Linked DNA regions of Homo sapiens: region 1 is linked to region 2. The links come from fine-mapping of genetic effects on gene expression. A gene starts in region 2. The other region holds a variant in brackets. All regions are shown on one strand. Distances are between the middles of the regions.

Region 1 (9,687 bases), 44 kb after region 2:
GCAGGACAGGCGAATGGAGCATTTGGTTCTCAATTCGTTTATATTAGTAAGTATGAGACCTTTCCTCTTACACGTTTTGTTTTTGTTTTATTTTTTCAGATAGAGTCTTGCTTTGTTGCCCAGGCTGGAGTGCAATGGCACGATCTCGGCTCACTGCAACCTCCTCCTCTTGGGTTCAAGTGATTCTCCTGCCTCAGCCTCCCAAGTAGCTGGGATTACAGGCGCCTGCCACCACGCCTGGCTAATTTTTGTATTTTTAATAGAGATGGGGTTTCTCCATGCTGGTCAGGCTGGTCTCAAACTCCTGACCTCAGGTGATCCACTCGCCTTGGCCTCCCAAAGTGCTGGGATTATAGGCATGAGCCACGGCGCCCAGCCTCTTACACATGTTAAAAGAAAATTTTATTTATTTTTTTGAGACAGAGTCTCCCTCTGTCGCCCAGGCTGGAGTGGAGTGGCGCGATCTCGGCTCACTGCAACCCCCGCCTCCCGGGTTCAAGTGTTTCTCTTGCCTCAGCCTCCTAAGTAGCTGGAATTACAGGCACCACCACCATATCCAGCTGATTTTTGTATTTTTAGTAGAGACAGGGTTTCACCATGTTGGCCAGGCTGGTCTTGAACTTCTGACCTCAGGTGATCCACCCGCCTGGGATTACAGGCATGAGCCACCATGCCCAGCCAGAAAAATTTTAGACATATTAAAGTTAACAGAGTTTAATTGAGCAAAGAATGATTCATGAATCCGGTAACTCCCTGAACCAGAGGGACTCTGATGCTGCCATGTGGTCAGAGAGGAATTTATGGACAGGAAAAGGAAAATGGGCTGGGCGTGGTGACTCACGCCTCTAATCCCTGCACTTTGGCAGGCCAAGGAGAGCGGATCATTTGAGCCCAGGAGTTCAAGACCAGCTTGGGCAGTATGTTGAAACCCTGTCTCTACAAAAAAATACAAAAATTAGCCAGGCGTGGTGGTGTGCACCTATAGTTCTGGCTAATCAGGAGGGTGAGGTGGGAGGATGACTCGAGGCCAGGAGGTGGTGGTTGCAGTGAGCCACGATCATCCCACTGCACTCCAGTCTGGGGGATGATAGAGCAGGACTTGGTCTCAAACAAAACAAAACAAAACAAAAACAAAAAAAGGAAAATGACATACAGAAAATGGAAGTCAGGCTGGGCGTGGTGGCTTATGCCTGTAATCCCAGCAGTTTGGGAGGCCAAGGTGGGTGGATCACTTGAGGTCGGGAGTTTGAGACCAGGCTGGCCAGATGGTGAAACCCCTTCTCTACTAAAAATACAAAAATTAGCCGGGTGTGGTGGCGCACATCTGTAATCCCAGCTACTCAGGAGGCCAAGGCAAGAGAATCTCTTGAACCTGGGAGGTGGAGGTTGCAGTGAGCCAAGATTGCACCACTGCTCTCCAGCCTGGACAACAGAGTAAGATTTCGTCTCGAAATAGATAAATAAGTAAATAAATAAAATTAAAAAAGAAAATGGAAGTGATGTATAGAAATAGCCATATTGGTTACAGATCGGTGTTTATTTTATTTGAACATAGTTTGAACAGTTGACCACCTGTGATTTGCTAAAACTCAGTGATTGGTACTGTCTGTTTACACATCCAGTTAGGTTACAGTTTAATATGTTTACAGACTAAACTTAAAATATGTAAGCAGGCAGCTTTAGGCTAAACTTAATTGAACAATTTCTTCCTTTTAGTCAACCTCTTAAAATGAAGAGGTTGACCAAACTTTATGTATTGCTGTCACTTTGTCACCATAGCAAATAGACTTACTTGGTTTCAAATCCCACTGAGAAATAGTGGAACACTGTGTTTTATAAGGTGGAAACGAGGAATTTAGATTCCCTTTTTGTAAAGGGTAGAGCAGAGACGACTTCCTTATTATACTATAATCCCCTCTTTTCTGGAGAAAAAAAATCTGGTCTCTTTGGGGATCCATATGCTTCCTTAAAGTTTTAGTTTGATTGTGCTGCATTTAGCATGAGTTGACTCCATTTGGTTAGATCCAATCTAGTCTGTTGGGGCCTAGTGCATGAGTTCAGTCCAAAACAATGGCCTCCCATAATTTTGTTGAACAATTCTCCCCTTTTGATCATGTTGTCACTTAAGTGAGAGTGTGACCAAAACATCGCTAATTGCTACTCTCAGTTATGATCATTTTGGGTTTCTGGTCTCAACATGTCTTTCATAGGTTATAGTGTCCTCATGATTATGTATTTCTTTGAGATTTTGTCATCCCAGTTGAAGAGAGACCATTTGACATTCTATGCATGGCTGCATTAAACATTTACAATTTTTGAGAGGATATATTTCACCAGGGAGATGACTATTATGACTACCAGAAGGACAATACCAAGAGTTTGGAGTATGCTGCTTAGCCAGGGTCCCCATGAACTGAACCAACTAAAATTAAATAGATTAAAGAATAAGCTTGATAAATGGTCTACGAGTTTCGACCAAGCAGCCAGTTTTTTAATCCCCTGCAAATGAATCTCTATAGTACCTGACATATTCATCCATGTGCAACAAGAAGTGTCAGCAATTGGCTGGGCATGGTGGCTTACACCTATAACCCAGCACTTTGGGAGGCCCAGGCAAGAGGATTGTTTGAGCCCAGGAGTTCGAAACCAGCTCGGGCAACGTAGTGAGATCCTGTCTCTCTCTCTCTCCTCTCTCTCTCTCTCTCTCTCTCTCTCTCTCTCTCTCTCTCTCTCTCTGTGTGTGTGTGTGTGTGTGTGTATGTATATATATATATATATATGTAGTCAGCAACTGCACAGATTCTTCTCTGTTCAGCCAGTAAGTAGCCTAGAGCAGTTCTATTATGTAGCACAACTTTAGCAAAAAGTTTAAAGAAGTCTTTAGCATAGTGTTTATAGTTGAATCTGCTATAGAGTCTACTATGAGGGACAAATTTCTAATCATTGCCTCATTTACCCCAAATCATGGAAAAAGCAACCTAACGAATTATGCCCATTCAGAAGGGTGAAGGCCTCCTGGCAACGTTTGCTTCAACCTATAATGTAGGTTAAAAGAAATAGACCAATGTTCTGTTTCTGACTGATTATGGAGCTACAAAGGTACCGTGAAAATTCCTCACCCACTTTGGCCCTTCATCTTCTATCCATCAAGGCATAAGGTTGCTCATGCATAAGGTTAGCGGTGAAATCCTCCACAAATAAAAGTATACCCCATGGGTCCACACAAGACTTTTTCTAGTTCTAGTCTTCATAAAGGCATAAGCGAGGAAAAAATTAAGAGAGGTAAGAGTCTCATGATGGCAAAGAAGTCTTGATCTGTCATCTTGAGAAAGCTTTCCACATCTAGGATTCCATCTGCTTCTGGTGAGAAACTTCCCTGGTTAGCTTTATCTTGAGGTCTCCAACAGATATACAGTTCTAAGAGTCTGGAGGGGCCCTTCTGAGTTGTGAGATTACAGACCCAAGGTTCAAAGTCCTAAAGTTTTGCTGCAGTGTGGGTGGCAAGGTGTGTTGTTTCTAGAAGACCCAATCTCTATGTTCTTGATCATGAAGGATTTAATTGTCCTCAGTCAGTGGATCATGAAAACCTTCCTTACCTGGTGAAAATGCACTTTGGCATAATGCATTAAAGCCACAGTTAGCCATATCAAAGTTTAGGAGCAGAAGATACATGAGTTTTTGTTTTGTTTTGTTTTGTTTGTGTGTGTGTGTGGTTTTATTGTGTGTGTGACAGAGTCTCGCTCTGTCACCCAGGCTGGAGTGCAGTGGCTCAGTCTTAGCTCACTGCAACCTCCACATCCCGGGTTCACGGGATTCTCCTGCCTCAGCCTCTCGAGCAGCTGGGATTACAGACATGCACCACCATGCCTGGCTAATTTTTGTATTTTTGTAGAGACGGGGTTTCACCATGTTAGCCAGACTGGCTTGGAACTCCTGACCTCAGGTGATCCACCCGCCTCGGCCTCCCAAAGTGCTGGGGTTACAGGCGTGAGCCACAGCGCCTAGTCATGAGTTTCTATTATTAGGGGCATAGGCCTTCCAGTGACTGTTTTATAAAGGGTCAACTGATGTTTTCTGCTGAAAGTGGATCTAATTGTCATCAATCTGCAATACCTTTGACCAAGACAATCCAGTTGATTTACTTAGCTTTGCCTAGTACTATTTTGTCTGTAGTTTCTTATTTAACTGTTTTACAATTTGTTCAATGAAACAAATACATTTATCACTGGAGATTTCTCCAGGAATGCCCCCTGAAAAAAACACACTTCCTAATAAACTTTTAGCTACTGTTATATCATCAGACTTCTTTCGTGGGAAAGCTTCTATACAACCAGAAAATATGCATTCCGAATGACAATTGAATGAACTCCCTCTATAAATGTTCAAATGGCCAATCAGGTAGCAGAAGTGTACCTGAAGTTTTTATTGTTTCCCCAGGATTATGGATTTGACAAACTAAGCATTGGTCAAAAACCATTTTAGCAATTTAAAACGGTCACACCACACACACACACACACACACACACACA[T/CAT]TTTCTATTTGGATCATTTAATCTCTACCATAATGTGTCATGGAGTACAGAGCTTCTAAGAGTGGAAGCTTTAAGGATTCAGGAAGGATGAGGCAGCTGTCCAGGCTCTCCATGAGTTTATGCTTAACATTGGATGTATATCTTCTTCAATACCAATTTTGTTTTTCCAATTCAGGTGAATAGTACTGTTTAATAACTGGGTTGGCCTGGTGCAGTGGCTCACACCTGTAATCCCAGCACTTTGGGAGGCCAAGACAGATGGATCTTTGAGTTCACAGATCAAGACCAGCCTGGGCAACATGGTGAAACCCCATCTCTACAAAAAATACAAAAACCAGCCAGGTGTGGTGGTGCATGTCTGTAGTCTCAGCTACTTGCGGGGCTTAGGTGGGGGATGGGGAAGGGGTGGCGAAGGAGGTTACAGTGAAACGAGATTGCACCACTGCACTCCAGCCTGGGTGATAGAGCCAGACCTTGTCTCAAAATAAATAAATAGGTAAAAACTGGGTTATCACAGGTAATCTGACTTGGACCATGGAGTTCATTCAAACTGCATATCCTAACAATTTCAGTACTGGCTGATTTAGCATGAAAATCTGGCAATGGCCGGTCATGGTGGCTCACACCTGTAATCCCATCACTTTGGGAATCTGAGGCGGGCAGATCACTTGAGTCCAGGAGTTCAAGACCAGCATGGGCAACATGGTAAAATCCTGTCTCTACAAAAAAATACAAAAATTAGCTGGGCATGGTGGCACATGCCTGTCGTCCCAGCTACTTAGGAAGCAGAGGTTTCAATGAGCCGAGATCATGCTATTGCACTCCAGCCTGGGTGACAGAATGAGACTCTGTCTTTAAAAAAAAAAAGATGTGCTTGTCAGGGTCCTTTATATTCTTTCCATGAACCTCCTTGAAGACACAACACTCTATGATTTTACTTGCTCGTAAAGAGCTTTCAGAAAATGCATCAGAATTAAGTAATTAACTGTGGAAACAATTTAAAATCGTCATAGTTAAAGACCCAATTGACAAGGAAATTTGGTTATTTCTGTGGACTGTAATAATTTAACATAATAGCCATAACTGTGACTTATACCAAGACATATCAGAATTTTAGGAATCTCATACAGTCTTATTTTGTTTTTGTTTGTTTGTTTGTTTGTTTTTGAGACTAAGTTTTGCTCTTGTTGCCCAGGCTGGAGTGCAATGGTGCGATCTTGGCTCACTGAAACCTCCATCTCCCAGGTTCAAGCTATTCTCCTGCCTCAGCCTCCCTAGTAGCTGGGATTACAGGTGCCCGCCACCATGCTCAGCTACTTTTTTTTGTATTTTTAGTAGAGATGGGTTTTCACCATGTTGGCAAGTCTGGTCTCAAACTCCTGACCTCTGGCAATCCACCCACCTCAGCCTCCCAAAGTGCTGGGATTACAGGCATGAGCCACCACACCATGCCTTGTTTTTTTTGTTTTTTTTTTGTTTGTTTGAGACAGGATCTTGCTCTGTCGCCCACACTGGAGTGCAGTGGCATGATCATGGCTCAGCCTTGACCTCCTGGGCTCAGGCAATCCCCCTGCCTTAGCCTTCAGAGTAGCTGGGACCACAGGGCATGCCAACATACTTGGCTAAATTTTTTATTTTTGTAGAGAAGAGATTCCTATGTTGCCCAGTCTGATTTCAATCTCCTGGGCTCAAGGATCCTCTTGCCTTCGCCTCCCAAAGTGCTGGGATTACAGGCATGAGCCACTGTGCCCAGCCAATTTTGGAACATACATTAATAACATATCCAAAATGTAATTTGAAAGTTAAACATCAGGCCAGGCACGGTGGCTCACACCTGTAATCCCAGCACTTTGGGAGGCTGAGGAAGGCGGATCACCTGAGGTCGGGAGTTCGAGACCAGCCTGACCAACATGGAGAAACCCCATCTCTACTAAAAATACAAAATTAGCCAGGTGTGGTGGTGCATGCCTGTAATCCCAGCCACTCAGGAGGCTGAGGCAGGAGAATTGCTTGAACTTGGGAGGTGGAGGTTGCAGGGAGCCGAGATTGTGTCATTGCACTCCAGCCTGGGCAACAAGAGCAAAACTCAATCTCAAAAAAGCAGAAAAGCAAAACAACAAAAAAAGAAAGTTAAACATCATTTCTTATTTGACAATGCTTCCCATGTCACTTAAAATATTAAATAAGCCTGCTTATTGTCTCTCTTTTGGATGCTGCAGGGGCCTCCTGTAGCATTGCAAAGTTAGTTTGTGGCCTAAAAGACTTAATTTTGAATTTAAAATTTGATTTTGAGAAGCCTGTCAAAAATTTAAAACAACCAAAATAGGAGGCTGGGCATGGTGGATTACGCCTGTAATCCAAGCACTTTGGGAGGCTGAGGGGGAGTTCGAGACCAGCCTGGCCAACATGGTGAAAACTCATCTCTACTAAAAATACAAAAATTAGCTAGGTGTGGTGGTGAGTGCCTGTAATCCCAGATACTTGGGAGGCTGAGGTGGGAGAATAGCTGAGCCTGGGAGGCAGTTTGCAGTAAGCTGAGTTCTTGCCACTGCACTCCAGTCTGGGCGACAGAGTGAGACTCCATCTCAAAAACAAACAAACAAGCAACAAAAATAGGATCACAGATCACTGTAAAATAATATTTATTTAGCCAAAGTGATAATTAAAAGGTTTTAAAAAGCAAAAACCTTTATTCTTTGATAGAAAAGTCTGTTTTTCTAACAATCAAAAGACCTAATAAAGACAGCCTGAGATAGAATCTGTCTCTTCTCTTCCTTTTTTTTTTTTTTTTTTTGCAGTTTACTCAAAGATAAACAAAAATATTTTACTATCTCTTATTAATCCTACACAGGCTGGGTTTGGTGGCTCACACCTGTAATCCCAGCACTTTGGGAGGCCGAGGCAGGCAGATCACTTGAGGTCAGGAGTTCAAGACCAGCCTGGCCAATGTGGTGAAACCCCATCTCTACCAAAAATTAGCTGAGCATGGTGGTGCATGCCTGTAATCCCAGCTACTTGGGAGACTGAGGCAGGAGAATCGCTTGAACCCAGGGGGTGCAGGTTGCAGTGAGCTGAGATCATGCCATGGCACTCCAGCCTTGGCAACAGAGCAAGACTCTGTAAAAAAAAAAAAAACAAACTATACAAAATTCTTACTCAAAAGAGAAAATCAAATTTTAGTTCCATATAGTGTATTATCAATACTAAAGCTAACTTTAATGAAACCTTACCTTTCCTCACTTCTTAGAGAAGGGTCCATAGATCCATTGTTCTGGATTCCCATCATAACTTTTTTTTTTTTGAGACCGAGTTTCACTCTTGTTGCCCAAGCTGGAGTGCAATGGCACGATCTCGGCTCACCGCAACCTCCGCCTCTCGGGTTCAAGCGATTCTCCTGCCTCAGCCTCCTGAGTAGCTGGGATTACAGGAATGCGCCACCACACCTGGCTAATTTTTGTATTTTTAGTAGAGATGGGGTTTCTCCATGTTGGTCAAGCTGGTCTTGAACTCCCAACCTCAGGTGATCTGCCCGCCTTGGCCTCCCAAAGTGCTGAGATTATAGGCGTGAGCCACCGCGCCTGGCCAACTTTTTATTTATTTATTTAAAATAGAGATAGGGTCTCACTGTGTTGCCAGGGCTGGTCTCAAACTCCTGGGTTTGAGCAATCCTCACACCTCAGCCTCTCAAAGTGCCGGGATCACAGGCATGAAACACTGTGTCCAGCCCTGTCATAACTTAAAGGGAAACTTTTACGATATTTGGAGCACTGATGTTCTGGAAATTAAGGAGGAGGGTGTCCTCAAGTTCCTTGCAGCAGGAAGCCACTTAGGTAGCACCAACCTTGACTTCCAAATGGAACAGCACATCTATAAAAGGAAAAGTAATGGCATCGACATCATAAATCTGGAGAAGCTTCTATTGGCAGCTTGTGCTATTGAAAACCCTGCTGATGTCAGCATCATCCTCCAGGAATACTAGCTGGTTGGCTGTGCTGAAGTTTGCTGCTGCCATTGGAGCCACTCCTATTGCTGGCTGTTTCATTCCTGGAACTTACACTAACCAGATCCAGACAGCCTCCTGGGGGCCATGTCTTCTGGTGGTTACTGGTCCCAGGGCTGACCACTGGCCTCCTACATAGGCCTTTTATGTTAACCTGCCTACCATAGCTCTGTGTAACACAGATTCTCCTCTGCACTGTATGGACATTGCCATTACATGCAACAAGAAGAGAGCTCATTCAGTGGGTCTGATGTGGTGGAGGCTGGCCTGGGAAGTTCTGAGCATGCGTGGCACCATCTCCATTGGACACCCAAGGGAGGTTATACCTGATCTCTAATTCTATAGAGATCCTGAAGAGATTGAGAAGGAAGATTGAGAAGGAAGAGCTGCTGAAAAAGCTGTGATCAAGAAGGAACTTCAGAGTAAATAGACTGCTCCACCTCCTGTATTCACCGCTGCTCAGCCTGAAGTTGCACACTGGTCTGAAGGCATGCAGGTGCCCTCTGTGCCTGTTTAGCAGGTTCCTACTGAAGACTGGAGTGCTCAGCCTTCCACAAAAGACTGGTAGGCAGCTCCCACTGCACAGGCCACTAAATGGGTAGGAACAACCACTGAGTGGGCTTAAGCTATTCTTCCACAGTCTCTTAAGCAATGTGGAAATAAGGTTCATGGAAAATAAACATCAGTTTTCTAAAAATAAATAAATAATTAAAAGCTTATAAATAAATCCATCCAGTTTCAGTCAGCTTTTGACCCACAAGATTTTCATAAACATTTTATAATCTCTTACACATTTTTTTCTATTCTCTTTCTCTTCCCAACTTTCTACATTCATTTAATGTTATTGATATCTTTTTTCTTCATTTAAAAACAACCTTTAAGGCTGGGCACAGTGGCTCATGCCTGTAACCCCAGCACTTTGGGAGGCTGAGGTAGGAGGATCACTTGAGCCCAGGAATTTGAGATCAGCCTGGGAAACATTGTGAGACCCCATCTTTACAAAAAAAGTTTGAAAATCAGCTGGGTAAGCCAGGCACGGTGGCTCACGCCTGTAATCCCAGCACTTTGGGAGGCTGAGGTAGGTGGATCACCTAAAGTCGAGAGTTCAAGACCAGCCTAACCAACATGGAGAAACCTCGTCTCTATTAAAAAATACAA
Region 2 (9,687 bases):
ACTCATTTTCAAGAGCTCTGGCAAATGAGTTCTCTGGGATATGCTAGGAAAAAAATTTGTGGCAAAAGTGTTACTTCCCTGGTGTCCAAACTCCTTGCACAGTCCTTATTAGTAACTATAGTTGTTTTTCCGTCCCTGGCTCAACAAATACGAAAACTTGTCATTATTCTGAGAAATTTCAATTGTCAAAAAGCTCACCTGAGATCACACAATACTTACCAAGGTCCCGCCGCCCACACCCTACCATGGTTTTTACATTGCAACAAACCTTGAGCAACCCACTTTATCTCTATTTTCTTAACACCCTTAAGTAGAAGAGCACAAAGCTCAAATATCAAATCTGGAACATTCTCTAGAGTGGTTAGCCTAAGCCATGGAGCACCGTAATTTTAAATTTCTCAAATAACTAAGTCTTCACTAAGGCAGCAGTTCAAAACTGTTCCAGGAATTAAAATATATTCCCATTTGAGGAGTCTTCCTTCACACCTTCACCTCCTCAGCCTTAAGTATATACACACACACCCAACACCCTCAATACTTGACTAGCAACAGGCTTTACCATCTTTACCTGACAATGACCCCAGGGCGGAGATCGAAATTCTTCTTCACAATCTCTAATAGCTCTCTCTCACTCTTCTGAGAGGTACCATAATGGAAAATGGAGATAGATAATGGATGAGAAACTCCAATAGCATAAGAGACCTAAAAGGATTCAAATGTCGTAAGAATCAGTGATTGCAAAGACCCATATACTTGTATAATACGTTGGTATAAAACAAGTAGTTAAGTAGATTACTACTAAATACCCTCCCACTTACATGACTTTTAATCGTTCGTTATATAAAGAGTGTATACCTGAACAAGAACCCTCCGGCACAGACCTCCTTTAACAAGGGATTTTGCCACCCAACGAGCAGCATAAGCAGCTGAACGGTCGACCTTGGTATAATCCTTTCCTGAAAAGGCACCTCCTCCATGAGCACCCCAACCGCCATAAGTGTCCACAATGATTTTGCGTCCAGTCAAACCAGCATCACCCTGAAATTACAGGATTTAAGTTACTTTACGCCTAGTGCTTTCCAAGTGGATTAGGTTGCCTATTCTGAATTCATTCAGCAAATATCCTCCGATGATTCACATGTAGGTTTCAGAAAGCCTGAAAAAAATGTAGTAGCCAAAATTTTAAGTAACCATCAAAAATCCAGAAAAATGCAACAAAATGACATTACCTGAGGCCCACCAATAACAAATCTGCCACTTGGCTGTAGGTGGTAGATTGTATCCTCATCAAGGTATTTCGCAGGCACAACTGCTTTGATGACTTTCTCCTTTAGGGCATCCCTCATTTCATCAAGACAAACCTCTTCATCATGCTGAACAGATATAACAATTGTGTGGACTCTGATGGGAAGCACAGCACCTCGATCCTGCATATACTGCACAGTAACCTTGAAGGCAACACAGGTCATCAGAACATCACACCAAACAATAACTTTGTATTTGTTTCTCTACCTGAAGTTACAATATAGGAAAACAAATGCTATTTTTTCCAGTTAGCTATTATCAAAATTATGGATCTTCTGTGCTGATGTAATAAATGAGACAACCAAGCTTTATGATCATCACTTACTTGAGTTTTAGAATCAGGGCGTAACCAAGGCAAAGTGCCATTACGGCGTAGTTCTGCCAGTTTGGCATTTAGCTTGTGTGCCAAGACAATGGTTAAAGGCATACACTCCTCAGTTTCATCAGTGGCATAGCCAAACATTAAGCCCTAAAGAAAGAAAAGTCACCAATGTGATCAAGCTCCAGAATTTAATGTTAGAAGAGATTAAAACAGCCTCTACACCAAGATACCTGGTCTCCAGCACCAATGTCTTCTTCATTTCTGTCAAGATGAACACCTTGAGCAATATCTGGTGACTGTTGCTCCAAGGCTACCAGCACGTTACAAGTCTTGTAGTCAAAACCTATAAGCAAAAAACACAACATCTTGTTTACGTCCTAGAAATACCTGCTGTTTACAGCAATTATCTGGAATTCTAAACACTGCTGAAGAAATCAAATATACCTAAACCATCGGACCTTTTAGAGAATGAACAGAATAGGGCTTAGTGTATAGTAAGATACAACTGGAGTTTAGGATTAGCAGGAACATTCTAGGAGTTTCTTCAAACCTCACAGCTGTTACCTAGAAAAAAATGAGCAAAATCATTAAAACACACCTTTGGAAGAATCATCATATCCAATGTGTTTAACAGCTTCACGAACCACTTTCTGGTAGTCAACAGCAGCTCTGGATGTAATTTCCCCAGCAAGAAGGATCATTCCAGTTTTAGCAACAGTTTCTAATAAAAAGAGACATTCAACTCAAACATCACTTCTATAAAAATAATTTTTATGCTATCTTTCCACCAGTTGATAAGCACATTCTGAACCTACCACAAGCTACTTTGGCATCAGGATCCTGCTGAAGGTGGGCATCAAGGACAGCATCACTGATTTGGTCACAAATCTTATCTGGAAAAGAGAAATTCCTGGCTCAGTTTCTTTAACTTTAAACAAAGTATGTATGTATGTATGCAAGCTCCCTCCCTGTTACTATCTGTAAAATCTTTGGAGATTTTAAAAAACATGCTTAATACATCTTAATTCATTGTGTTTGCACTTTCCTCCTAAAATTCAAAGTTTGCATTATAAATCTAATCACCAGAAAGGTGAACTGTTAGTCCTATATCCTTTAAAGAACAGAATTTGCCCTATATCATATTCACTTCCACAACTGTACCAAACCCCTCTGCACCTGGGAGTCTGGTAGAACTGAGGCCACAGGTAGGCCAGTTTCCCTAATCTTAAGGAACACCAATTATAATGAGCAACAAGATAATTCGATTAAACAATTAAATGAAAAGCATTTTCTGACTAAAATGGCAATTATCTGATTTTGCTGTTAGGAGTTGCGCAGGAAACAAAAGCTCAACAGTGTAGAAGATGCTCAAACGTATTCCGAATCCATGTCTCCCTGCTTTGTCATCTATTGTTAGGAGGGAGAACAAATATCTCCCTAATTCAAGTTCGTTTTTCTGAATTTTCTATAACCGCCTAAAACAGAATCCAAACATAATGTGGAAGCCAGACTGCAGGCTCTGAACTTCGGTCTACTACTAACTGGTGTAACAGCTAACCTTCAGCACTCATCAAGATCCTGGGTTTGTCCTCTCATACCACTAAGTTACTTGTGGGATTTCATCATGGGCACAGTAAACTGACCAGACCCTAAAGCCACCAGATAGATAACTACTGCGGTCATCCTAAGGGCAGAAACAGCCAAAAGAGCCAAATAATCATCTTTACTAGCCGATATGCTCAGGCTGAGATTTTCAGTTCCTGGAAATATAGCTTTACTCCTCCTTCACGTGCCAATTGATCCCCATAATGGCGGTTGAGCGGACAAAGCCTCAAGTAAAACCCTGCACCGAAGACTTTAAATGCGAACCCAAAGCAATGGCAGCTCCTAATTCATGCTTCCCATCCTTTTCACAAGGGGTCCAAATAAGGACTGCCTTCTTGGACATGAGCTATATTTAGTCAGAGGCCGTCACCTTGGAGGCAAGGCCATATCCGCCGAAGGGCATGTGCGTATTCTCCAGTGTGTAGTCAAGACCTAACCACTGAGGCAGTGGAGCCAGACGACGTCCCAAGGCATAGGCCCCCCACCCCTCAAACTGAGGGCCAGGACAGCCGGGGAGGCTCACGGCTCCCCCTCGCCCAGATACCACATGCGGCAAACACGTGGTCGCCGCTGCAATGCGGGGCGCGCGCTCCCGAGGGCCGGACGCGAGCACGCGGGGCGGGTCGCCCACTCCAGGTTTGTCAGACGGCAGGGCCGGGAGGGGTTAACAGTGCCCTCCCTTCCCGGCCAGAACTCACTAGCGACCACAGCCCCCGCCCTTCACGTTTTCTGGAACCTTCCGCATGCCTAGGCGCGCGACCGAATGAAAAGGGAGGGGGGAAGGGAAGGGTGGAGAGGGGAGGGGGAAGAGGAGCGGCGGCCACGCGCCAGGCCCTGGCGGCGCCACGAGGAAAGCGCGCGGTCGCCGCTCTTCCATCACCCGGCGGACGAGGACGACCCGCGCGGGCCCCACCACCGGCCGGCCGCAGCCAGCCGGACCTTGGCGCTGCCTTCTGCCCCGCCCCACGCTTCGCTTCAGGCCGTCCCCTCACCTGGGTGGCCTTCCCCGACCGACTCTGAGGTGAAAAGGAATGTGCCCTCCTCGATGAACGCCTCGTGGAAGCCGTTGAGCTGTCCGTTCATGTTGGTGTCGGTGTGCGGAAGTGGCCTTACGAAGGAGCAGCGGCGAGGCGGCAGCGGCTGCGAAATGCGCAAGCTGCGGACAGCGTTCTACTCGTAGCAGGCGGGCGGCGCGGAGCGAACGAAGCAGCGGGCGGTGCGGCCCGGTATTTATAGAGCAGCGCCCGCGCGCGCCCGGCTCGGGCCCCGCCCCTCGGCGCCGCGCGCCAATGCACCACTTGCGCGGGGGTCGGGGGAGGAAGGGCAGCTCGCCCCGCGGAGTCCGGGCTGAACCACACTGCGCGGCCGCGGGAGGTGCCGTGGCAATCCGGCCCTCCAGAGACCGTTCAGCTATCTTGAGCCGCTAGAGCTAGGAGAAAAATGCAGACGCGAGGAGACGTGGGGGATTGCTCTTCCTTGTTTGATGTGGGAGAAAAAGCGACTGGGGCTTGCTGGACCCGCTCCCCTGTGCGGTGACATGGCACCTCCCTTCCGACCGTTGGCCGGGATAGCTTTCCCGGAGGTCGCGTCCCCCAGCGGAGGCGGCGGGAATCGCGGAGGTTTTGTGCTGCGGCTGGGGTCTTTCTGGCCGTCCCGCCTCTAGATGCCGGGTGGCAGGGAGCCGGTGGCGGTCGGCCATGTGAAGGTGGCCATCTTGGCCGGCCAGCGAGGGCTCCTCACGGCCTTCCTTCGGCGTCCCTGCCCGGCTCGTTGCCGGCCCCGGGATATCTGAGGGGCGCAGGCCCACCTTCTAGTCGTTTCCTGGTGAATGGCTCTGCTGAAGATGGCCGGAAAGCAGATTAATGAAGGTGCTGCCATCGATTTAAACAATCGCCCTCCTGCCCGCTCCCCTGCGCTAAAGTTTCTGAGGGATCCTCACCCTTCGTGGTTCGTGGACTTAAAAGTGGAGGCAGCGCTCCAGCCTTTCCCTCCAGAGAGAAAGGAGGCCGCTCCCAAGTCCGTCCTTGCCCCGTGGCCTTCCTGTTCCTTTGAAGGGGGGGGGAATCGATGTTTCAATCCTCTGTTCAGGAGAATATGGAACGAACATTTCTTTTTTGGTGGGTGGGGGCTATTCGTTCCCTTGAATGTGCTTAAGCAGATCTCTTGACGGCGTGGAATGGGCTGTTTCATGAAGCTTTCACTTTAAAATGTCCACCTGCGTTTGTCCCAGTTTTGCCCAATAAAGGAATTACAGGGAAAAAGAGCGAAACAAAACTTGAGCCAGCAAGGAGTATGGAGTCCCGTTTGGAGGGAGCCCGCCTTGGGGGCGGGGGTCTCTGCAGCCTGTTCTGGGGCTGGGCCTCGGTGCAGGTCTGGTCGGGCTGGTGGCCTGGTGGCCCTGAGCGGAGCGCGTGACAAGAACGCCGGGTTTAATGAGGTTCTCAGGGAACGGCCTGCTCCTAGCATGGGATGTACTTTACGCTGGGGAGGTGAAGGAGACCCCTAGTAACAGTCTCCAGCTGCCTACTGCTGGCGGCAGTAGAACAAGGTGCATTCCCAAGAACAATCCTCTCCGTCGGTGCAGGAGGAAAGGTGGGATTTGCTAAAGGCTCAGTGGGAAACAAAGGAAGCACTTGGGCTGTGCTGGGGGCATCCACAAAGAAGATAAAGGGCTCCTCCCCAGACTCAGTGACCACATCCACGGTCGCTCAAAGCAGGCAGCAAGAAAAGGTTCGACCACAAAAGAGACAATAGGTGATGATATTTTTATTCGTTGCTTTTTACTTTTCAAGCTAACCCTTCATGGGAAAGTAACTGTATAAGACTATTAAATTTTTTTGTTATTTTTTAAAGGAGAATGCCAATTTATTAACTTACAATGTGTAATAAAATTGTCAACTGGAACAAAATGCGTGTGTAGGCTGGTCAGTGCATTATCTCCCAGCAGAAAAATCTATATGGGAAGCCAGAATATAACTAGAAGGTTATTTTATTAGGGAGTCAGAACAAGGAGCGTAAAGTCAATGATTGGCTCATTAAATCCTGATACCCCTGTGCTACCAACTCCACAGTGGGGCTAGGCCTGCCAAGGAGATGAGATTTAGCTGTACATAGTTGCTTACCTACTTCTCTCACTTGTGAATAGTGTGTAGGTGTAATACAGTAAGAGTAGGGGTTTGGAGTCACGACCTCTCTATGCATCAGTATCCTCGTTCTGTAAAATTGGAATATTAATAGTACATCATAGGATTGTTTCAAGGATTCAAATAGTGCAAGTAGAGTCTTTAGCACAGTATCTAGTACATAATTTGTTTTAATGTAAGCTGTAAAAAAATTAACTATATTTGCTGTGAATTACTTTTCAGTGGCTTTCAATTGCTGTCGGGATACGGACTAAAATCTCTACATACTCAAGGCCCCAGTGTGATTTGGCTGCTACTTCTGCAACCTTACCTTGTGCCACACTCTCCTTTCTGTGTTCTACTTGGATTTTTTAGTTAGTAGCAGTTAATTTTATTAATTTCATAGTATCAAAACAAAGGAGGACACATTTTCATTTATTTTATATTATTCGTATTGTCCCTTCCTCCCTTCCACAAATATTTATGAGCACATCTGTGAGTCAGACCCAGGAGCAAATGCTATAACAATCCTGGTCTCTGCCCACTCGGCGCTCTAAATGTGGGGAGATGCCTGGCTAACTCCTTATCCTTCTCACTCCAGCTCAGCTACCACTTCCTGGATGAAGCCTTCATCTACACAGATTTGTCACAGGGGCCTGTGTTTTATTTCATGGCACTAAGTGCAGTTTCAAATTATAGATTTGGTGATTATTTGATGAATGTCTCCAATTCCCAGTTAGGCTTGTAAGCTCCATGATAATGAGAAGGTGGGCTGTTTTGCTCAAGCTTTGTTACTGAATGCCTGGCACACACAAGGTGCTTAGAAATGTTCAAGAGGGAGAGACAAGAAAGGAAGGGAAGGAAACGGAAAATGAACGAATATAAAGATGGCAGAAGGGGGCGGGGCACGGTGGCTCACGCCTGTAATCCCAGCACTTTGGGAGGCCGAGGCGGGGTGGATCACGAGGTCAGGAGATCCAGACCATCCTGGCTAACACGGTGAAATCCCATCTCTACTAAAAATACAAAAAATTAGCTGGGCGTGGTGGCGGGCGCCTGTAATCCCAGCTGCTTGGGAGGCTGAGGCAGGAGAATGATGTGAACCCGGGAGGTGGAGCTTGCAGTGAGCTGAGACCGCACTACTGCACTCCAGCCTGGGCGACGGAGCAAGACTCCGTCTCAAAAAAAAAGATGGCAGAAGGAAGCAGAGAAATGAGAGACTCTGGCGATCATGTGAAATCAATGGAAAGAGGTCCTGCTTTGTTTTAGTCGTAAGCATTGTAATTAATAAAATTAAGACTTCTTTGTTAACAGGGAAGCACATGGCCATCCTGTTCTGACAGGAATAAGATTTCTGATTTCATAGATGCGTGTCCTAAGGGTGAACTAAACCAGGAGAAATTGTTGGTTTATTTCCTGTTTATCGTTAATGAATTTGTTGAATGTGAAGTGTTGTAAAGCACGTAGGAAAAATCTAATCACTGCCTAAAGGCTTCAGATTTCTCAAGCCAGAGAACATTAATGTAGCAGTAACCCTACAAAAAAGGCAAAGTTGGGATTGGATAAAAATGGTATTTGTGACTCAAACAGCAAATAAAATAACTCCTTATTAGCCTGTCAGTCATGGGGAGAGTTCCAGAAAACATTTGCAGTGCAAGAAGCTGTTGATGTGGCAGGAGAAAAGAGGAGGGTGACAGTAGGGATAGCAAAGAGCAAGTGAAGGTGTGGAGGTGTTGAGAAGGAGGTTCCTAGGCTGTGTGTCTTAAGAGCACCTTCTATGTGAAGACAGACCAAGAAGAAAGAAATGTAGGCCACGTCTCCAAATTTGTGGCAGTTCTTTAGGGCCAAAGCTTAGATATCTCGGATGGCCTCAGAGGCAAGCTAGTTCTAGTGGGATCAGAAACAAGTACTATGTGAACCCCCTCATTATTAGGCTTTTTGTATTTTGTTTTTATTTCTATGTTTTTCTCTTTTGATACTTAAATCTTTTTACAGTCCCAATAAAGAAGTCCTGAATGGAAGAATAGATATGGTACAGTGAAGAAGACACTGAAGGAGATAATAATATGATGACAATAGCTACACTTTATTGTGACAGGCACTGTTGTAATATCTACTACTCACAACAGCTCTATTTCTCTTCCTGTTTTACAGATGAAGAAACTGGCATGTTATTCGTCCATGTCACACATCAAATCAGTAGTGGAGCTAGGGCCTTGAGCCTGGTCTGACCTCTAAATTCATGCCCCTTCTTATAGCCAAACAATAAATACTGCATACTCCCTGAGGTCGTTAATATTAACAATTTGGTTTATATCCTCCCTTTCCTTTTTCTGTGAACACACACACGCACACATCTTACTATTCAGAGAAACATGGATTTTTTTTTTCTTAACAATTTTCATGACTGTCTCTCCAGGATACTATGTAGAGCTGTAAATCATTTCCTTCTCTTTTACTGTGGGAAAATATATACAACATAAAATAGGTAGCTCACCAAGGAGAAAATGCAAATTGCAATAAACATATGAAAAAAATGCTCAACCTCGTTGATAGATGTGATGTTAATATATGTGTGAATTTATATATGTTTTTATCCATGGTTCCTGGCTCATAACTCCCATAGCCCTTGTTATACAGTGTTTCGTTATAATGTTGAGAGTGTTAGGACTCAGGAGCAGGCCTCAGGAAACAGAATCTCTCTGACTTTTTCCTGCTTCTCTTTCACCTGCCCCAAGGCAGGACTCTAATCTTGCCCTGCCCTTCTGATCATGGGTCATAAGACCCTCATTCCAGAGAGGGTCCTACCCCATACCCTGGGACAAAGAATGCTGAGAGGACTGGGTTCAGAGAGTTTCTGGAGAGCTGAACAGGTGGAGGCTGACAGGAAAGTGAATAAGAACTCATCCACGTGCCAGGAGGGTGGCACACCCCAACTCCATGGTAACAGAAGCTCCTACACTTGGGACCCTCCCAGACCTCACCCTATGTATCTCTTCATCTGGCTGTTTGTTTGTATCCTTTAAAATAACCAGTAAAAATGAGCAAGTGCTTCCCTAAGTTCTATGAGCCACTCTAGCGGAAAAAAAAAATTTTTTTTTTTTGAGACAGAGTTTTGCTCTTCCACCCAGGCTGGAGTGAAGTGGCGAGATCTCAGCTCACTGCAGCCTCCACCCCTGAGTTCAAGTGATTCTGCTGCCTCAGCCTACGAGTAGCTGGGATTATAGGCGCCTGCCACCATGCCCTGCTAATTTTTGTATTTTTAGTAGAGACCGGGTTTTGCCATGTTGGCCAGGCTGGTCTTGAATTCCTGACCTCAGGTAATCTGCCCAC

Which allele goes with the higher level. Positions count from the first base shown, and alleles are read on the strand shown. Sizes are in standard deviations (SD) of each study's normalised expression.
For the expression in neutrophils of the gene that starts at base 4,435 in region 2, CAT is the low allele of the variant in region 1 and T is the other (large effect, 1.0 SD a copy in BLUEPRINT).

The links. PIP is the estimated chance that this variant, and not a neighbour inherited with it, causes the effect.
Region 1: its variant is fine-mapped to the expression of MAT2A in neutrophils (BLUEPRINT, PIP 0.91).

Annotation. Positions count from the first base shown.
Region 1 is chr2:85,490,392-85,500,078 of GRCh38, reverse strand. It overlaps the pseudogene RPSAP22. Among named protein-coding and RNA genes, the nearest start is that of PARTICL, 44 kb to the left of the region's middle. The variant T/CAT (reference allele first, on the strand shown) is at 4,530.
Region 2 is chr2:85,533,916-85,543,602 of GRCh38, reverse strand. MAT2A (methionine adenosyltransferase 2A) reads right to left here and starts at 4,435. Exons shown (of 9, transcript NM_005911.6): 1 at 4,225-4,435; 2 at 2,443-2,520; 3 at 2,226-2,348; 4 at 1,858-1,970; 5 at 1,631-1,774; 6 at 1,230-1,448; 7 at 856-1,038; 8 at 569-702. The coding sequence starts at 4,315. PARTICL (promoter of MAT2A antisense radiation-induced circulating long non-coding RNA) reads left to right here and starts at 4,717. Exons shown (of 1, transcript NR_038942.1): 1 at 4,717-6,136. RefSeq lists silencers at 3,848-4,177, 4,358-4,627 and enhancers at 4,658-4,747, 4,818-5,027, 5,428-5,517.